Linked DNA regions of Homo sapiens. The protein of the gene in region 2 purifies or fractionates together with the protein of the main gene of each other region. This does not show direct contact. Each region holds a gene or a part of one and is shown on either strand. Other genes may lie near its edges. The genes, in order: GOT1 and PLA2G4D.

What was found.
Region 1: the proteins of PLA2G4D (region 2) and GOT1 purify together in Homo sapiens (affinity purification with mass spectrometry; one large-scale study listed by BioGRID and IntAct). This does not show direct contact.

What each region holds. Positions count from the first base shown.
Region 1 is NC_000010.11:99,424,046-99,427,869, forward strand, and holds part of GOT1 (aspartate aminotransferase, cytoplasmic), read right to left. Parts: intron 1-3,824. UniProt on the Homo sapiens protein: Biosynthesis of L-glutamate from L-aspartate or L-cysteine. Important regulator of levels of glutamate, the major excitatory neurotransmitter of the vertebrate central nervous system. Acts as a scavenger of glutamate in brain neuroprotection.
Region 2 is NC_000015.10:42,073,907-42,077,730, forward strand, and holds part of PLA2G4D (cytosolic phospholipase A2 delta), read right to left. Parts: intron 1-3,824. UniProt on the Homo sapiens protein: Calcium-dependent phospholipase A2 that selectively hydrolyzes glycerophospholipids in the sn-2 position. Has a preference for linoleic acid at the sn-2 position.

The DNA.
Region 1 (3,824 bases), on a different chromosome or scaffold from region 2:
ATTTGGTCTGGCTTCTCTAAAGATGTACCAAAATAGCTACTTCCAAGTAAGAGTTGTCCCTAAAGCACATCAACATATCTATGATCACAACGTTACCATTGTTCAAAATATTCTTGAAACTTCTTTTGGAATTGTTTCTAGAGGCAACATCTCATTATTTTGAATAGCCTCAATAGTGCCAAATCTTTGTCCTTTGAAAGTCAATTATTTTTCGGGAATAGCATTTGCATCATCTCCATTGAAAAGAGTGAGTGAATAAGCTGGGTAAAACTTACGGAGAACAATTATTTTAAAAAATGATCCCTTGTGTGGGTCCTACATGCCTTGATAGCTAGTCTAAAAGGGGTTTCTAGAAATCTTGGAACAAGAAAAGCATATTTGAACTACCTACAAAGGATACTAGGTAGATGCAAAAAAATTTGGGATGTTTATAGAAAAACCAGTTCTGTTATGTTTCAGTTCTGTGTCTGGGTGTTATATCTATTCTATAACATTATTAGGCTATGTGTTTATATTTATGATAATATGTCATTCACAAATAATGTGCTATGAATAAATAAAATATGAAAGAGAAAGAAAAGACTGGAATACTGCTGTTCTTACCACTACTGAATACTCTGTGAAACTCTAAAATTCCAATACTACTACTTGGGTTGGGGATGGTTGGAGAGGCATTGTGTCTATACTGTGACTAAAAAAAAACTGGCCAATTTACAACTCCCCTTCCTTCTCCATTGCCCAGTTTTTCCCAGGTTGAGTTCTAGATTTGTTCCTGATGCCTCTCCTAACTGCCCTAGTGAAGCAGAACCAGATTCCTCTTGGGTGACTGGAGCAGTGGGGTCAGGCATTAACAACAACCACTATTCCTGCTGTCCCCAAGAATTTTTATTCCTATTTGTTGGACCCTTGAGTTTCTCATTCACTCTTTCATTCACTCGCTCACATAACAAGTACTTACTAAGTCTCACCATGAGCCAGGCACTGGCTAGTAGAAGCTATAGAGATTGATAAAATAAGATCCCATCTGCCCTCCAAGAAACACAGAGCATAGATAGAGCCTTTAATTCTAATTTGAGGAATCAGAGAAGATTTTACAGAGAATGAAGAATGAAAGATGAATAAGAGTTTAAAAGGTAAACAAGGGAAGAAGGGCATGCGAGAGGGCACACCTGTGCAAGGCCCCAGAGGCCTGGGGAGCATGAGGTCTTTGAGGATCTGCATTTTCATGACTCTGATGTGGAATCCACTAAGGATTAGCTGGGAGTGGCTAAAAGAATCCTGGAGTCTCTTTTAGGGAACTTCAGTTTCAATGGGTAACCACTGAAAGCATTTAAGCAAGAGAGTAACATGAGCAGCTGCACATTTTAATGGGATCATTTGAGTGACACCACAGAAAATAAACCAGAGAGAAGGACAGAGACAGTAGTTAAGAAGGGTGAGTTACTAGAAGTAGAAGGAGTAGAAAGCTACTGCAATATTCCAGAAGCGAAATAATGAGGCCTTGAATTCACACAATGGCAGCAGGGATGAAGAAAAGGGGTGCCATTGGAAATAGATTCGAGGTAGAAAAGACAGAACCTATTGACCAAATAAAAAGACAGGGGATTGGGGAAAGGGCTGCTGTTGACTCCAAGGTCTCCCTCAAGTCTGGATAATGAGTGGATGGTGGTAGTGGGGTCGACCAAGACCTAGAACACAAGGGGAAGATAGAAGAAAAGATCAAGGGGAAGGTGGAAATGATGAGCTGTGCTTTGAACATGCTGAATTTGAGGGAGTTGTAGGATGTGTCCACTGTAGGCCTGACATTCAGAGATGAGGTCTGGGGCATGGAGAAAGACATTGACGGAACCTGAGGGCAGAGAAATAACAACACGGATTTACTAAATACTTTGTACATACAAGGTACTGCACTAAATACATTTCTTTACTCTCATTTAATTTGGATAGCAACCCACAAAATAGATATTGTGATGTCTATTTTAAGGATCTGGCTGCTGCAGCCAGAAAAGTCAAACCATTTGCCCAGGATCACAGAGATAACAAGAGCTAGGCTGTCATACTATTAAGTTCATGGATCCATGTGCTTTTTTAAAAGCAAGAGATGTCTAGAGAAAGCCTGAAGCAAGCAGGCCCCTGGGACCATGTCAGGGGCCTTTTTATCAGCATGCTCCCCAGCTCCATGCCCCACTGCTCTTCTTCCTGGACATAAACCCTTTTAGGGGAGTCACACAGTCTACAGGTGGGCCCAGCAGTCTTGCTTTGCAGAAGGAAAGGAAGAAAGAACACAGATTTAAATGGTCAAACCATCACCCTCATCTTCCTCCTAAGATCGCCACTTCCCTCACCTATCCCCACTCAAGAGCCTATTAGGATACTGGGGAGAAGGCTAGGGGTACTCAGAAACATCTGATAAAGCATATTTTCCCAACTATTTTATTTGAAGATGCTAGGAAACCATGTTGAAAATAAGAAATATTAAAGCTAGCAGAGTTTATCTGGGCCAAAAGAAAGCTAGGCTCACATGAAAAAATGGACTGGAGTCTTTGAAGAAACTTCTTGCTACAGGTTGCACCAGGTTGGATCCATTTCCCATGTCCTTAAAACCACTTCAGTCTGAAGCTTTGAGAAGCACTAAAATGATCAACTTAGAAAGCATTGTGCTTAGCAGTGGAAAATGTGATACTCTCCTCTGTTTACCTATAAGGAAATTATTTAAATCATCACAGCAAGAAGAAAAACTGAGGAAACTAGCTGCAAGTAGGAACTGTCTGAGATTACAGGTGCAGTTTATTCTAAACGTGTCCAAAATCACTGGAACATTAACTAGATAACCTCCATTAGGTTTTATATTAACTTGGGGGAAAAAAAGTATCTTCCCTAAGGTCAATGATTAATTACATTTTCTTCACAAGGGGTATACTTGGGGATGTGTATAAATAAGACTAGGACATATAACGGCTGGAAGGAGACCTTTTATTCTACTCTAATTAGATCCTTATCCAAACACCTGCTATCCACAAAAAGACGGGTCACAGTGATGATCAAAAATAACACTTATATATGACACTTTTCATTTATATATCACATTTCACATATAATTATTCATTTAATCCTCAGACAACTGATGAGGCCAGTAAAATTATTATCCTACGCTACAGTCATAGAATGTGCTAGTGAATTGTGGAGTTGACTTTTAGTACAGTAGAATCTTTTTTATTTATTTATTTATTTATTTATTTTTGAGACGGAGTCTCACTCTGTTGCCCAGGCTGGAGTGCAGTGGCGCGATCTCAGCTCACTGCAAGCTCCGCCTCCTGGGTTCACGCCATTCTCCTGCCTCAGCCTCCCGTGTAGCTGGGACTGCAGGCGCCCGCCACCACGCCCTGCTAATTTTTTTGTATTTTTAGTAGAGACGGGGTTTCACCGTGTTAGCCAGGATGGTCTCAATCTCCTGACCTCGTGATCCGCCCGCCTCGGCCTCCCAAAGCGTTGGGATTACAGGCGTGAGCCACCATGCCTGGCCCAGTAGAATCTTAAGAGTAGAATTTGGGAGAGAGGTCATTCAATCTTGGCTCCTCATTTAACAGATGAGCCCCAGGGATGTTAAACAACCCTTCCAAGTCACATGGCTGGACCACGGTGCTGGGCCTGTACCTAGGTCTCCTGGCTCTTCCCACTACAGTGTACTGGCTACCACCTGGAGGTACCTGAAATACAGGTGTGGGCAGAGACTCTGAGGCCTGAGAGACCTGGCCTGGATTCCCAGCTCTACCACCCAGTGGTCAAATGACCTGGGGCAAATTGCTTCACCTCTCCAGTCTTCG
Region 2 (3,824 bases):
AACCACAGTCATCCTTCCACCCCATTTTCCAATGGTCCCCAGTATGAATTACAGGGAATTTGCAGGAAATCTCTAAATAGGGCTCGATCCCCTGCCACTGATGGTGGTGGTGTACGTACGAGTCAGTCCTTAGGTACAAATGTGTGTACGTGACCCCTTCTCAAAATCTTTTTATTTAGAAACTCTGTTGCTCTTTTGATACATATGACTAGGGAAAATGTGTCCTTTTACTATAGTTGCACAATTTATGCCCTAGGGAAAGTTCTGGAAAAAGGTCAGCACACCCCTCCATCTACTGAAACCCACCCGGTATATCTAATGGCTCACCAGTAAGCTGCGGCAGGACTCTCAGTCTCTAACCCCCCAGTTTCCAAGCAAGTAACCCCAACCCTGCAGAACACCATTCTGATGATTCGAGGGTCCCATGGGAAACACTGGAGCTTGGTGCAGTACCGGCAATGCAGACTAAAGGGAAGGAAAGTGTGTCAGCTCTTAACTCAGGAAAGGATAAGAGAACCACTCTGAGTTTCTCCTTGAGGAATGATAAGCAGCTTCTAAGCAGTTCAGTACTTGCCAGCAAAAGACTGAAGAAAAAAGTTTCGAAGAGATGAGAGTTTGAGAAGCACTGATTATAGCTAGTGTATTTTACGAGCGGGTTTTTATAAAAACCTAATCAATATTAAAGATGTATGTAGACTAATAAAGTCATTCTGAGCAAAGTTTCAGGGTATGATATTTATTAATATTAATGAAATTGTGATTGGTCATAAATGGAGTTATATATTCTGACATTGTAAGTGATTTTTGGTATTTTAGATTATTACATTATAGAGGTAATAAATACCTGTTTTTATCTAAAGTCTTTAAAAAATTAGAAATTGACACTAAAATTGCCCGAAGAAAACATTATTTTGTAAAGTCTACAATGAATGTTGGCTTTAAGAGGTAAGGTATGATAATCAGAAGAAAAAAATAATAAATTAAAAACCTTTCATATTGGGACAAAATTTTAAAAATAGCATAGGTGCTTTTGTTGAGACAGAGTCTCACTCTAAAGCCCAGGTTGGAATGCAGTGGGGTGATTACAACTCACTGCAGCCTCAACCTCCCATGTTCAAGCTATCCTCCCACATTAGCCTCCTCAGTAGCTGGGACTACAGGTGTGCACCACCATGCCCAGCTAATTTTTTAACTTTTTGTAGAGATGGGGTCTCACTATGTTGTCCAGGTTCATTTTTAAGAATATATAGGTGTCTAATAATACCACAAGCATTTCTATTTTTGTGAACAATTAAAAAATGTCTTCTAAAAAATGTCTATAAAGCTTGCACATAAAACCGTGCATTAAGTCATTACTGGAGTATCCAATGGTAATTAAATAAAAGTCTGCTTTACAGCCTAGGATCAAACTGCGTTTTCTAGCACCTTGTAAAGTGAACTGTTAAAACAGCTTCTCCCATTCTGTAGTAACTAATTGCTGCCACTCAGCAGGAAAGTCAGTTATTAAAACACAACACCATCAAAACTGAATATGAACTTAAACAGTAGATCCAAAGACTACATAGCACATAGTAATAAAATGAAAATATTTCTAGTAATTAAGTTGGCTTCATAAATTCAATGCCATTTCAATAAAAATCCCAACAACATTTATTGCAAAACATGACTAGGTGATTCTATCATATAATTACAACAGCAGGCCAGTCATAGTGGCTCACACCTGTAATCCCAGCACTTTGGGAGGCTGAGGCAGGCAGATCACTCAAGGCCAGGAGTTCAAGGCAAGCCTGGCCAAAGCAGTGAAACACCATCTCTACTAAAAATACAAAAATTCGCCGTGCATGGTGGTGCATGCCTGTAGTCGCAGGTATGCGGCAGGCTGAGGCACAAGAATCACTTGAACCCAGGAGGCAGAGGTTGCAGTGAGCCGATATTGTGCCACTGCACTCCAGCCTGGGTGACAGAGCAAGACTCTGAGGAAAGGAAGGGAGGGAGGGAGGGAGAGGGGAGGGGAGGGGAGGGGAGGGGAGAGGAAGAAGGAAGGAAGGAAGGAAGGAAGGAAACAGCAAAGGGTCAAGTACAGCCAAGAGAATTCTGAAGAACAATTCAAGTGGACTGGTAACTTGGCCTATCAGATACCAAGATTTATCACAAAACTTTAGTCAGTGTGCTGTTGGCATAGGGATAGAGAATCTGTCCTGTTGGAACAGAATAGGGCACTCAGGAAGAGTCACAGGAATATAAATACATGAAAAATATATGAAACCTGATACATGACAGAATTAGCAATGCAGATCAGTGGAGAAAAAATTCAATAGATGAGACTGGGAAAATTTGTTATTAATGTGAGAAAAAACAAAATTGGATCCCTATCCACATGATACCTGGAGATAAATTCTGGGTGGATTAAAGTCCTATTAGTAAGAAATAAATCTTTAAAAATTTTATAAGAATGTATAGGAAGATATTTTATAACTTTGGGGGAGTGAAAAGGAAGACTCCCCAAAACACAAACCATAAAGGAGAATGATAAATTAGATTATATTGAAATTATGCATTAAAACCATTAGAACTGGTAAGGATTCACATCGAGAATACATAAAGAATTCCTACAAAACAATATGAAAAAGACAAATTAAACAGGAAAATGGAAAGGGGTTTGAATAGGTAATTCATGGAAGAGGAAGCCCAAATGATAAATATACTTAAAAACATCAACTGTCTAACTAAAAATCAAAGAAATGCAAAACTATGATAAATGTTCCTTTCACACCCCATAGTTAAACAAAACTTTAAAAGTCTGCCCAAGATATAGAGAAAAAAGCAACTATTATACACTGGTAGTGGGAGTGTGAATTAACACAACTCCTTTGGAGAATGGTTTGGCAATACCTAGGAAAGTTGAAGGTGCACAAACCCAGTGGCCCAACAATTTAACTACTGGGTATGTATCTTGGAGGCTTAGAGAATCTTTAATGCAGGTGTGCAAGGAGACTTGTACAAAATTGTTCATGCAAATAATATCATATTTTTCTTAAGGATATATATGTGAAAATATTGTGAACTGGAAAACCTAGAAGAAACAGATAAATTCCTGGACACATTCAACCTACCAAGATTGAACCATGAAGAAACAGAAAAGCTGAACAGAACAATAACAAGCAATGAGATTGAAGCAGTAATAAAATATCACCCATCAAAGAAAAGTCAAGGACCTGATGGCTTCACTGCTGAATTCCACCAAACATTTAAAGAACTAATACCAATTCTACTCAAACTATTCCAAAAAATTGAAGAGGAGGGAATACTTCCAAAGTCATTATCCAAGGCCAGAACTACATTGATACAAAAGCCAGATAAGGACACAAACAAAAAAAGAAAGCTACAGGCCAAGATCCCTGATGAACATAAATGCAAAAGTTCTCGACAAAATACTATCATACGAAATTCAGCAACACATCAAAAAGATTATTCACCATTGATCAAGTGGAATTCATCCCAGGAACGCAAGGATGGTTCAACATACACAAATCAATAAATGTGATACATCACATCAACAGATATAGTTGGGATCAGTGCCCTGGTTACATAATCAAAAATGCCTTCCCAAGTCTCACCTCATTCTTACCTCTCCTAGGACCTTTGTTAGCTATTTTGTTATTACTAATCTTTGGCCCTTGTTTGATTAACCTCTTAGTAAAGTTTGTGTCTTTTAGATTACAATAGTTCCAGGTAAAGACAATGCTGGCACAAGGCTTCCAATCCATCCTGCCTACTGACCAGGAGAATTAAAATGTTCTGCCTATGGGCCCCTTAGATCAGGT